Linked DNA regions of Homo sapiens. The protein of the gene in region 1 interacts with the protein of each later gene in a pairwise test. Each region holds a gene or a part of one and is shown on either strand. Other genes may lie near its edges.

Region 1 (7,029 bases):
GGAGAGAAGTAAAGAGAAATTCATTTTTCTTTTTTTTCTGTCAGGTGCATTACAAAGAAAAAAAATGAAAGGAAAGAAAAAGAAAAGGAAAAAACCCAGAAACCCCAAAAAACAAAACAAAACTTTTTTCTTTTTAAAAATTGTAGCACAAAACAACAAAACACATTCACAAGCCACTTGTTGGCACTGTGTACCTGAGTGAGAATTTCTAGAACATTGTAGAACAAACAGCCATAAAGTTTATTTAAAAAAAAAAAAAAGTTGACGGGTAAGACTTCAGTGCTTGGATGTAGCAGCTGAATTACTGGCATTATTTTACCCATAGCTTATTTCAATCTCTTGTTGTTGATATTGTTGTTTGCTTGTTGTATTTGTTTTTTCTTTCCAAGCCTTTTGAGGCTGAGGTCTATTAGTCAGCTGATGTCCCAACTATTTAAGACTAACAGTTAAAGTAACAGTCAGTGTATGAGAAAGTTAATGTGCTTGGCCACTGGTAAGGATGAACCAGTTAGGGCTTCTTTAAGTCCTAAGGTCACAACAATCTTTTGACCCTTATCAGTTGGCTTGTCCTGCAATATGGTTTTCACTGTCACTCCCATAATCTACATCTGGATCATCCTCTTCCTCGTCGTACTCATCATAAATTTCTCCATTGATGTCCTCGGCCTGTATCTCTTCTTTGATATGTGGCTCCTCTCCTTTCACACCGTAAGTGCTCTGGATAACAGGCATCCCAGGCTCTGGGCTGCTAGACACGCTTGAGTGCTCCGAGGGCAGGTGAGGGGAGGGCATCCCAGCCATGGCGATGGCTCCAGGGTACACAACACCAGCAGTGGCAATGGGGATCTGTGCTTGTTGCCTGTCAAGAAAGGAATTTCCAAAAAGACATCGTGGGTAAGTGAATAGTTAGATGTGGACTTTACTACATAATTAATTTGCTCAGCAATGTCCAATTCTAAGGTACTAATTTTATCTAATTGCCTAACATTTTTCAAACTCCATCCTACTTGAACTTTAATACCTTGTTTTTCTTTTCTTTTCTTTTTTTTTTTTTTTTTTTGAGATGACGTAGTTTCGCTCCTGTTGCCTAGGCTGCAGTGCAATGGCGTGATCTTGCCTCACTGCAACCTCCCCCTCCAGGGTTCAAGCGATTCTCCTGCCTCAGCCCCCCAAGTAGCTGGGAATACAGGCGCCTGCCACCACACCTGGCTAGCTTTTGTATTTTTAGTACAGACGGGGTTTCACCATGTTGGCCAGGCTGGTCTTGAACTCCTGACCTCAGGTGATCCACCTGCCTCGGCCTCCCAAAGTGTTGGGATTACAGGCGTGAGCCACCGCACCAGGCCTAATACCTTATGTTTAGGTAGTGCTTTATAGAGTACAAGATATTGACATGTGTTGTCCATCTTATTCTTAATCCTGTTTGTTACTACTGTTTTATTAAAAAACTGAGGTGCAGAAAGATGAAGCAGAAGAACCCAGGTCCTTGATTCCAAGTTCATTTTTCTTTCATTATAACATGCAGAAATAGTATTTTTCCCTAGAATTAAATCTAAAGATAATTAAATTTTAATGGGAAAATCCTAAAGCATTAGAGTTCTCAAAATAAAACTTTACTGCCCAGAACACACCAGAACTGAACAAATTCACACTGTCCACTGAGTCTCTGAAACAGTTCTGGCCTCGTAGTGGTAGGAAGCAGGAGCAGCTTCATGGATGTACAAACTGTGCAACTGCACTAAGGTCCCATACTTGGTTTAAAGTTGTGCTGCCACAGACTTGAAATTCTTAATAACTTTTTAACAAGAGACCCTGTCTCCTCATTTTTGCATCTGGTCCTATAAATAATGTAGGTGGTCCTATTGGAAAGGATGAATAGATGATGTGCATTTATGCTTGTTTTTATTCATTCGTATGTTTACTATTTGCCCAAGAACTGTTGGGCATTGTGTTTAGCTTTGTGAGGAGTCATGTGCTTGCATATGAATCACAGACCACTGGACAGAGCATGCAGCCTCTTCCAAGGAACTGGAGGGGACAGAGCAGATTTGGAAAGGTTTTATGAGTCCTTCTCTGCCCATATTTAGAACAATATTTATTATTCTAAGAAGCTCTTAGAAACTAACTTCTGTTTCAAATATGAACAACTTTATTTTGGGTTTTTGAGAGAATTCTATAGAAGCAATGCATTTCTGTAGCCCATCTACAGCACTGTCAACAACCTTGCCACGGGAGCATTGTAAAACATCTCGGAGCTGCGTTCTCAATTCAGAATGAAACCTCCTGTTCCCAACCTTGTTACACCCTAAATATAATCCCTAGCTTGTGTGATCCACAAAGGCCACACATGTACCTTGATAGCTCACTAACCTCTCTATATTTAGAAATAAGTATTTTTGCTTTTGAAATGATTTTTATTTTGTATTGTCTCAACAAAGTTGTTAGTTTTAGAATTTATCATGGTGAAGCTTAGGAAGTAATGCAAACCAATGAAGAAAAGAACCAGTTATACTTCTAAGTTTTTAATAGAAAACTTCAAAATCATTTGCTTGTAGATATCTTGTTTTTAAACCAGTTGTTAACAAATCTCATGGTAGAGCTAGGAACTTGCAGTGGATTCATATGGACATATTTTTCAAGATCATGTGGGAGACTATTTGTCTCTGAAAATACTGTGAGCTCAGATTCTTTTTCAAAATGTCTTTTTGCAACTGAACAAATATGTTTCACATCCCATTAAGTATAACAGGAAGTTTGCCCCATGAGAAAAATGACTAAAAGGTACATACCCAACATTGAAGTACTGCCGCATTTCCTGCCGCCTGTTGCGCATGATTGCCTTGTATTCACCAATGCGCAGCTTTTTGCCATCCACCAGGCAGGTGCGCTTTGGCCTGGGCTTGTACTTATAGTCAGGGTACTTCTCCAGGTGCTGCTTGCTGAGACGGGCTTGCTCCTCATAATATGGCTGTTTCTCTAGGTTTGTCATAGCTTTCCAGCGAGATCCTATGAAGAAAGGAGGTTAGGATTCCAATTTGCACAGCTTCTAAGCATTCCAGAAAGTGATATGGCTGAGAACAAGAAAATCTAAAGTTGAGATGTTAGCCAAAACCCAGAAATACATAAACCTGTTTTTGATTAGTGAGATCCCACAAGAACAGAGGTGGTGGTGGTTTTGTACCTAAAGATATAAACACTGGGCAGTATTTTTTTTTTTCTGGTTTGCATTCTAGCCAAACTTTTGTATTATGTCCCTTAAAGCTCATAGATAATTTAATGGATACATTTCTCATTTCTACATTAGATCATGATATAATTCACATGTGAACAGAAAAGTTACATGATATGTTATCATGCATTTTGAATCTGAGACTAATTATCTAGTTATTGAATATTTTTATGTGGGAGATGTTTTTTACTACAAAAGTTCCCAACATATATCATGTAGTCTCATCCTCCCCAAAATGTTTAAGTATTTTAAGCTTACAGGAATGGTAGTAATTAAAAATTCCTTTGATTAAACATTTAATTATAATTAAAATTATAATATTAATAAACATGGAGTGGGTAACTACTATGTGCCAGACACTGTGCTGAAACCTTGACATACTGATGTCTTTTTCCTACCTTTCACCTCAATCTTATAAAAGAGACAGCATTTCTATCTATTTTCATAGATGAGAAAATTGAGATTCAAATAGATGGACTAACTTAGCCAGGGTCATAATTACTGAAGTACAGATCTGTGACTCAAACTCAGATTTGATATAACTTAAATTGTGCTATAATGTATGCCCTTTCCTACATATGGCCACCTACTATACAAAATATAGCAGAGGTCACAATTACTGTAAATGCGTATTACGATTTTCTCTTAATAAATCAATTTCAATAACATACAAAGACGTCACTTCCCATGATACAGTCTGCTTTAGTAATAATAACCCAAATTGTTTTCCCCCTTTCTTTTCACTATTAATTTTGGTGTGAATTTAGCTGGGATTAAAAAAGACAAGTTTGAAGCTTAAATAAAAATAGTTTATGCTAATTCACATTTTAGATATGGTTTAAAACTTGGATTCTGTCAGTATGGCTATGTGTAATAGAAGTGGTAATGTGTCCGGAATTGGTGGGTTCTTGATCTCACTGACTTCAAGAATGAAGCTGCGGACCCTCGCGGTGAGTGTTACAGTTCTCAAAGGCGGTGTGTCCGGAGTTTGTTCCTTCTGATGTTCGGATTGAGAGGTGACAGCGTGCTGGCAGCCCTCAGTAGTAATAGCGTTTTTTTTTTTTTAATAGTGATTTAAAAATCTATTTGCAGATGAAGTGTGTTTATCTGCAAATAGTCATCTCAACTCAACGCGAATGCACAAAGACCGATAAACTGGAACTAGGATATCCCTACCAAATGGCCTTATACCTGCCTTCAAATGTCATCTAAGTAAGATCTTAGAATCTTTCGAATGAGTTCATTACTCACCCGTAACTCCCTATCTTAAATGCAAATAGCTCACTGTTGAATAGTTCTTCCTTACACATGTAAAGAGTTCCTCAATATGGGCTGTTACATTTATTAAAGCATACAGTGAAAGAGGCAATATCTCTTCCCTTAGAAATGTTACCATTGGAAGAGATATTGTATTGCATAGGTATAAATATAGATTTTTCCAAATCTAGAAAGCCAATGTGAATTTATTCTATTTACAGTATAAACTCAGGTTACAGTGCAAATAATAGAGTTTCTTTTTCTATTCCTTTCGTAAACTTCTGTTTAAATAGCATCATCCAACATTAGGTTGGTTGGTCAAGCCATATCATTTGTAGGGACAATCTCAAACTCCTTGTTGGCCCAGCATTATTCTCTGAAGATACTTGAATACCATTATGTTATTCTCAGGGCCTATATAAACACAGATATGGTTATGATCCTATTGAACTAGAACAACCGTTTTCATTGAGTTTCTTCCAAGCATTTATACCAGTTTTTTGAACTTCAGATCAGGGAGTGGAAAGTGAGCTTACCATAAATAACTCACAAATAGGAATACACTGATAAATGGATCAAGGATGGTTGATCTAATATAAAATTTATTAGCTAGCTTTATCCCAAAATTCGAAAACGAAACCAGCATTTTCTTTTTTTTTTTTTTTTTTTGAGACAGAGTCTTGCTCTTTCGCCCAGGCTGGAATGCAGTGGTGTGATCTCGGCTCACTGCAAGCTCCACCTCCCGGATTCACGCCATTCTCCTGCCTCAGCCTCCCGAGTAGCTGGGACTACAGGCGCCCGCCACCACGCCCGGCTAGCTTTTTTTTTTGTATTTTTAGTGGAGATGGGGTTTCACCGTGTTAGCCAGGATGGTGTCAATCTCCTGATCTCGTGATCTGCCCGGTTCGGCCTCCCAAAGTGCCGGGATTACAGGTGTGAGCCACCACTCCTGGCCAAGCATTTTCAATTAGAAGGGGAATTGCCAAAGATTCTTCCCTAAGTTTAAATGATCTATACGCCAAAAGGCTTTGGCCTCTCAAAGGAAAGAAAATGTTTATGCTTAGAAGTAATCTGCCTTGGAATGCGAGAGCTGTTTGTTTGTATATTTCCTACTATGTACATAATGTTGCATTCATTCCTTAATAAATATATAGTAGTGAGTGAATACAGAAAGTTATAGTTCCTGTCTCTTTGCAGCTTATATTCAGTCAGGGAATATACATTAAATATCTAATTACAAAATTTATTATTTTCCTTATAGTTGTAGAAAGTACAGGAAGGTAAGAGAATATGATGAGGCAAGATCAATCCTCTGCAGGTCAGGAAGGCTTTGCTGTAGAAATGACTCCCGTGGGGCTCACAAAGAGAAGAGCATCCTATTGAGGAAGAATATAATAGTTGAGGTCTTTCGGTGGAAAGAGGAGTTAGACTAACTTAAAGAAAGCTGGTCTGGCTTAAAAAAAAAAAAAAAGAGGAAAAAAAGATGCGTGTATGTAAAGAAATGGGATAATAAAAGATGTGTAAATTCTCAGATAAGTTGGCTTCCAAATCTGGCATGAACGGGAATTATAAAATAGTTTAACTCTTGATAGTATAATTTCTTTGAGAGTATCACTGAATCCTAAATTACACTTTAAAATATGGCCATATAATAATTCCAAGTCTTTTCAAAACTAAGAATAAAGATAGGCTAAGTACTAACCGGGTCAAATGGCTGACTGACTACTATATTTTATGACAGTACAGGGCAGTGTTTCCATTTGGTGGTAAATCCAGTTTTCATTTTCAAAATAGTAACCTTGAATTAGCTTAACCAACTGACAAGTTTGGTTTTGATTTCAATGGCTTTGCAGGTACTATAACCATTGTATGCAGCTGAGGTGTTAACTAACCCCTGAAACATACTTGATGAGAATGGCAGGAAAATATTTTGGATAAACAACAATAAAAAAAAAAAAAGAGAGAAAAAATATCTACTTGATTTGGGGGTGGCTGGCTGCTTACTCTGGACTGATGTACAGGGAGTTTATTCATTCCCTGCTGCTTTCAAAAGGTTGTCGTTTTAGAATAAAAAAGCAGAGAAGGAGGGATAGCATTAGGAGATATACCTAACGCTAAATGACGAGTTAATGGGTACAGCACACCAGCATGGCACATGTATACATATGTAACTAACCTGCACATGGTGGACATGTACCCTAAAACTTAAAGTATAATAATAATAATAATAATAATAATAATAATAATAATAATAAAAAGCAGAGAAGGACAATTGGGTTTTCCTCCTGATGACAAAAGAGGAAGTTTCAATCAAAAGTATTTGATGCTCAAAATAGGGGAAAAAATAAGGTCCAACGATTATTCCTTTCCTTTCTAAATCTGGCAATACACTGAAAGTGAAGAGTTTGCGCTGGGCAACATTGTCATCTCCGTGGGGTCTGTAGTGAATTTGCACATTTTACTCCAACTAAACTACTGTATATCTAATCAGAAAAAGATGTCCCTCTTCCCCTGATCTAGCGCCAAGCAGTAAAAGGTGATTC
Region 2 (7,029 bases), on another chromosome or scaffold:
TCAGTACATGAACACAAGGTGCAACCGCACTGTCTATTATATGACCCCATTTACTCTCTGAATGGTACTTCATTAAATGGTACCTTTTGGCCATGCTATGGATGGATGAAAATCAAAGTTATCAAGGCTGCGAGTCCTGAATAATGAGTTTCACCCAACCTTGACTATATTCAGATGAGTCGAGGTGGCTAAGTGCTCATCCTAGCTTTTACATGCTTCCCTTTAGTTAATAATAAATTCTATTTTATCAGTTTGTGATTGTACGCCTACAAACATGGTATGCTTATTATTACAGGATAGCAGAATAAGTTACCGTAACATTGTAAACATGAGTGGTTTGCATTGAAAAAGATGTATTTCTCCTGTTTTGATAACTTTTAATGTGTTGGTAAAATGTACAGAGTCCTGTCACATATTCATCAGGATAGATATTTCATTGATTTGCAATTTGGTATTTTCTGGGTTCTGAATGTGCCATTTTGTTCTGGTTTGCAATTCTAAAAGTGAATATGTAACCATCCAGCTGAGTTTTTTTTTTTTATGTATGGGGAAATACTTTTCTTTTCTTTTCATATTTTTAACATACAAGTATGTAATGCTGATATTTTCTAAATATAACATTGTTATGTATATGTTCTGATGTTGATATTTTAGAATATTTGCAAAGTCACATACAGATGCATATGGATGTTTCTGCGTTTCTCAAACTATGCAGAGGTGCTCTTGTACATCCCAGAGAAGCTTACACCAGTGGCTTTGTAAATGTATTAAATGCAGCATTTAGGAGCATTATCTCAGCTTTCATTTATGTACGTAACAAAGAATTCCCTACCCAGTCTGCTGGCTTAGAGTATGAACAGAATAACAGTTTGTGGTTTATTGGGAACAGATGCACTTGGGGATGCCTTCAGGGTGCCAGTCGTTATTATTAGACTGCTAATGTGCTTCTTCTGGCTGCTGCCCAAGAAAGAAGAACAATTAGCTGGCATATGTTAATTTTTGTTTCCCTAACAAATCTCTCTACTGACTAAATGTGTAAAACAAATCCACAAAGAAAGATCAATCAATGCTGTACACATCATTTTCTCCCCATTAAAAAAAGGTTTATCTTAAGAAGTGTATTTGGGATTTAAAAAGACAGGTGTTACTAAATTATAAACAAAAGCTGAATATTCTCTATTTAGCCACTCAGCAGTTACTTTATAGAGAAACAGAACAATTAGAATTAGTTTTCTTGCTTGGTTGTATAGCCTACTGTATAAAGTAAAAAGGACCACAGATTACCTCTTGTGAATACCATTTAAATGTATGGCAGAAATCTTTTTATGTGCTGCCCTGCGTAAAAATTTTGCTAATTGGATGCTATTTATGACAAAAGATGTGTGGTAAATATGACAGAGGTGATATGAGTTTTTTGATAATGAAGAACAGGGCCTTTCTGAGGGGAGTAATGAAGGGCACACTGTTAAACAGCTTGCATACATTCTCACCTTTTTTCTTTTTTCTACCCTGACACCCACTTTCCAGGGTACATCAGCATTAAGTGACACTGTAATCATAAATTGAAAATGATACTTCCAGAGGAATTGGCAAACTTGACATTTCATTATATTTGTTAACACATGCCACAAATGATTGTTAGTGAGGAAATTCCATTTCCCTCTCTCCATCTCCAATCAGATTTAATTTGAAAATTTTCAGCCTCCTCCGGCTAATTTGCAATTAAGACAATTTTGTTTGAATATGTAGTAATGTCATTACCATTCCACCAAATTAGCAAGGAGACTAAAGGTCAGTGTAAAATTTTCCAGCTGGCTGGAGCCTCTCAGCTGAGATTTGGGACTACGAAAAAAAAAATTCTGGCATCAACAGAATAGCAACTTACTTTAAATCCTATTGGTTAAAAACATTGCATCCTTCATTATTGCTGTTGTTGTTGCTTCACTGGGGGCTAGACCTGTTTAACAACAGGGGCAGTCGATAATCAGCAACTGGCTTTTATTTAAGGAAATAGACTTTCGCTGAAGTCTGGTAGGACAAGAAGGAGTTAGTCCTAAGTAACATTGCAGTAGATTATTAGATAACCTCTAACAGAATCCTCTAATTAGAGTTCTTATGATACAATTTCATCCTGTAATTAGTTGAGATTGGCTGCTTCCTTTTGCAGCTTATTAGTGGCAACACAGCTGTAGAAGTGAATCCACTCTCATTTGTCAAACCTTTTTAAGTCTTTTTCTCTTGTCTCTACCTTTTTCCTGCCCTTCTCTTGGGCCTTTGCAGCTAAATCTGGTGTCTAGTGTCACCATGTCGAAGAATATGTTGGAGACATCCCCACAGAGCTTACCTCAAACCCCTACCACACCAACGGCCCCAGTCACCCCGATTACCCAGGGACCCTCAGTAATCACCCCAGCCAGTGTGCCCAATGTGGGAGCCATACGAAGGCGACATTCAGACAAATACAACATTCCCATGTCATCAGGTAGGATATGAATGCTCAGTAGAGCACTTTTACTTTGGGAGAGGAAAACTGTAGCTGAATCAACTGTACATGAGCCATTCCAGAGCACATGGAAACTCATGTCATGATTTATGGAGTGATAATTGTTTTATTCCTGGTAAATGCGAATAGGGGCGATTCCCTAAGCACATCATGATGAATTGTTCTGAATGGTTGTTCAGGAAAGAAAGCTCTCCCCATTAGAGACACTGAGAGATGTCAGGATAGCCCATATTATCACCTCAATTCAATGAGATCCTTTGATCTCTGAGGGAAGACTAGCAATCCAACATCTGTGAGTAATGCTGTAGAGAAGAGCCATTTTAAAGGACATATACGAAACACCGTTGCTTTATGCAAGACAGTTCGAGGTTTACATGAATCAGTCTTTATCAAGGTGCTACCTAAATGAAATCCTGTCACAGCTCCTAATGCCGATATGGCACTTTGCTTAAGAAGCATTGTGAGAGGCAAACTTTGCATTTGCATGGAACACAAATTTACCTTCTTTCCCTCTCTTACCCTTCTCCCTTCTCCCTTCTCCCCCACCTGCCATCCCTGGGGCATCTGGATAATCACAGTCACACATTGTAACCATTATTAGCCCAGAGCCCCCTCTTTACAAAAAGTGAAGTTATTTTCAACATGGGTGCTTGGTGAGGGTTTTGTGTTTCCTTTGTTAGATGGCCACAGATGCAGAGGTGAGCCTGTTGTACTTTAAGACGTATTAGATGAGAGAAGCAAAGATTATAGCAGGGGGGCAAAAGTCCATGTAAGAATATGCCTAAACTACCCACTTTAAAGAAGACCTGGCTATTGGAAAAAAATCCTCAGGCCAGCAGGTCGCACAGTTCCTGAAGTACCACGAACAACTAGGGGATGCTTCATTTGCACTTCGCGTCAGAAATGGCCTTTTCCATATAATTCAATTCCACTGTCATGCTTTGTGCTTTCACTAGTCGGTGGCTTCCTCACTGAATCACTTTACCAATACTAGAGGAAATATGAAAATTCAATTATATATAATGTGAATTATTAGCAGAATTAACACCTAGTTTTTATTTTTATAGAAATTGCCCCAAACTATGAATTTTATAAAAATGCAGATGTCAGACCTCCATTTACTTATGCAACTCTCATAAGGCAGGTAAGTAGAAGGAAAATTAACTTTGCCTGATTAAATTAAAATTCATTAATGCTTAAAGTAAGGCTTGGATGAGAAAGTGTCATCTAGTCTAGTTAGTAAACCATTATTTTATGTCACTATGTATCTTGTCTCATTTCAGGCTATCATGGAGTCATCTGACAGGCAGTTAACACTTAATGAAATTTACAGCTGGTTTACACGGACATTTGCTTACTTCAGGCGTAATGCAGCAACTTGGAAGGTAACTACTTTTCCAGCAGTTTTAAGATGCCTACCACAGTTCCTTACAGATAGCACAAGGAACATTTATTTACATGACATAAGCAGATTAGTATCTGCTTCCCCTCTTTTTAACCTGCCTCTTGAATGGAATGAATTCCCTCTCTCAAAATGACAAGTGAAAGAATAATTTTGCCTCTGATATAGTTTTCTAATTTGGTGCAATTAATAGCTGAGGCTTGGCAGAGAAACGAGGGCCTGACACACTAATTACAGTGTGAGCACTCAATCATCAACACCTTTGTTAGTCGCACGATATTACTTTTTCTCTTGCATATTATTGGCTAATTAGTTTGAAAAATGTCTGTTTGGCTTGTGCAACAAATGGAGGCTGTAGGTTTTGTCTTGGTCTGCGCCTTTTGTACACATCATACCTCATCATACAGACTGAAGCTGCCACGGGAGTGAGGGCCATGGCTACTCAGCTGGAACTAAAAGAAAGTAAAGTGAATATTATCCTGTCAGAACATAAATGCAGTTTATTTACTTAGACAAAAGGGTTCATCTATATCCCTGTCCAAACAACTTCATTGTCTGAATCTTACAAGGAGCTAAAAAAAATGTTAGTTCTATGCATCTATTTTTGGAAAAGAGCAACGTCTGGAAAGATAAGGGCACTCAGCACAGACTAAGTGAACTGTTTTATTTTCATTTCAAAAAGCAGTCAGAAACATCAATTAGCCACAAGCCATTTGGTACAAAAGGGGAAAATGTTTGTAGCTGAGAAGAATAGAAGCAGCAAAGCACTCATCAGCATACTGAGAATTTTAGACTGTGAGATATGCTAAAGTGAATTAATTTGGATTTAAAATGCAAATTAATCTGGCAAGCGATTACAGATATATGGGTGTGAGACTCAGAATGCTTTTAATTTACAAAATGTTTAGATGTTATTAGTTGCTACAGTATGTGGTACTGTAAATGAATGTAATTGTTTTATTTATGCACAGTTACTTGGTATATATTTTATATGATGAAAATGTCAGCAATAATCTGTGCAATATATGTTTTGGAGGGTTTTCAGTAAGTAATATTTATGTTGAAGATTTACATTTTCTTTTGTTACTCATTAGATAATGTAGTGAATGTTCTGTCATTTGATTTACTGAAAGAAATTTTAAAAGAAATGAAAGATGATTTAATATCTTAGCTTGGTCTCATCTCCACAGCTCGGGGATCCAGCAAAACTCATTCTGAACAGCTTATTAGTTCTAACTATATCGCATGCATAATAAAACTGCTCATTTGCTCATTAATATTAAAATTATCATATTCAGAGCCATGGGCATTAAGATCAATCAAATCCTTGGATTTCAGGTCAGATGCTAGATCTGCTTATGCTTTTTTTTTTTTTTTAAGAATTCTTCTCTTAAAGCAAGCTAGAAGCAGCTTGTCTTTGTGCAAATAGAAAGAAATCTTCATCAAAATTACTTTGTTTTATATTCGTAATATAAGAATTAGGTCATTTCTGAGTACTTGATAGCTATATGCCAATGTACCTTGACAGGAAGAAATATTTGCTTAGGTTTATAATTTGAATTATGGAAAATACTCGATGTAAATTATGTGGTCTACTGTATATTTATTATAGCTAAAATTTTAGGAATGACTTAATTTGATTTAAAAATGTTAATTTTGAGTAATTACTCTAATACAAAGCTGCCAACAACATCTGTTTGCATAATCATTATGGGAAGAAAATGTACTCTCGGGTTCCAGCAACGACTTTCAGTTGAGTTTAACATTTACAAAAACTTTATTGGGAATTTAAAAAAAATCTAAGTGTGTCTTATTGTGCAGGCAGAACGTTACACTGTAACTTGCATATGTCATCTAATAATACAGAATAAACAAACTCTGTCATTTCATTATTATAGGGATGAAAAGAATGCCTTTGAGCTTATTTGCATAAAGCTTTGTGCAAAATTAACACTTGTCACTGTAGCCTTTTTAGCATTTTAATACCTCAAGCAGGACTGGTTCCTTTGGACATTTCAACCATCCCTGAGTGCTTGATCAGGGACACAACAGAGCTGACCTAATTGTTCTGGCATTTTCAAAGATACTGTAATTTGTACAGATATTGCAATTTAGACCAGTTCAATGAAAGGAAGGTTTTGACACAGCTATTATTAAAATAGCTTGGAAGGTTCTCTTATCACAAAGTTCAAACTGCAGATTCCAGTAATTTGTAAGTTTGAGGTTTGTAATATCATGCCATATTTTGATTTTAATACTTAAACATGTTAAGATTTTTCACTCTGATTAAGTAAGATCAATAATGTAGTATGTTGGGCTGCCTTATTAGACAATATTATTTTTGCCATTTTTTCTTCTCTTCTGTCTGCTTTAGAATGCAGTACGTCATAATCTTAGCCTGCACAAGTGTTTTGTTCGAGTAGAAAATGTTAAAGGAGCAGTATGGACTGTGGATGAAGTAGAATACCAGAAGCGAAGGTCACAAAAGATAACAGGGTATGTTTGTGATAGTTTTGTAATCCTGTATCCTGCATCCACCAGGAAAAGTAAATACTTTAAGTTGGGGCTGGGGTGGGGAGACAGTTAGCTTAATGGCATGCTAACATTCTCGTGGCAATGAACTGCATTTTGAATCTAGGTGTAGGTGGCATAAATCAACAGTAGCCTATCAATTTTTTCCGTAAAAATCATCACAGGACTGTTTTGGTTACTATTTTCATCAATTCAGCATTTCTACGTGTATCAAAAAATTGTTTTTCAAGATGGAACATGCTTTCTAGAGAGAGAGAGACACTTCCTGTTTTTATACAATACAGTAGCTTCCAGTAGAAGCTAAAAGGCTTTTTAAAAATGAGGCTAATTTTGCATATACTGGTAATCCTGAAAGTACCTTTTTATGAAGAATTTATGAGAAGACTTTATAAAAAAATAAGGCTATTTCTTTCTCAAATACTCTCATTTTCCAAGACAAACTTTATCATTTGGACCTACCTTGCTTTTACTCCAACTGTGATGGTTTTCTGTACAGTGCTGTTGAGATGACCAAGGTATACTAGTGTGAGAAAATTACTGGCTGGGAAGTTTGAATTTTGTTTGTTTTATAGAGAACAAGACTGCCAAACTT

What was found. Proteins that work in one complex are often made in the same cells at the same time.
Region 2: the proteins of SOX5 (region 1) and FOXP2 come close enough for resonance energy transfer, tested with the Homo sapiens proteins (one study listed by BioGRID).

The regions. Positions count from the first base shown.
Region 1 is NC_000012.12:23,533,664-23,540,692, forward strand, and holds part of SOX5 (transcription factor SOX-5), read right to left. Parts: intron 3,007-7,029; coding exon 2,790-3,006; intron 860-2,789; coding exon 556-859; 3' UTR 1-555.
Region 2 is NC_000007.14:114,655,786-114,662,814, forward strand, and holds part of FOXP2 (forkhead box protein P2), read left to right. Parts: intron 1-2,280; coding exon 2,281-2,482; intron 2,483-3,570; coding exon 3,571-3,647; intron 3,648-3,786; coding exon 3,787-3,888; intron 3,889-6,279; coding exon 6,280-6,401; intron 6,402-7,029. UniProt on the Homo sapiens protein: Transcriptional repressor that may play a role in the specification and differentiation of lung epithelium. May also play a role in developing neural, gastrointestinal and cardiovascular tissues.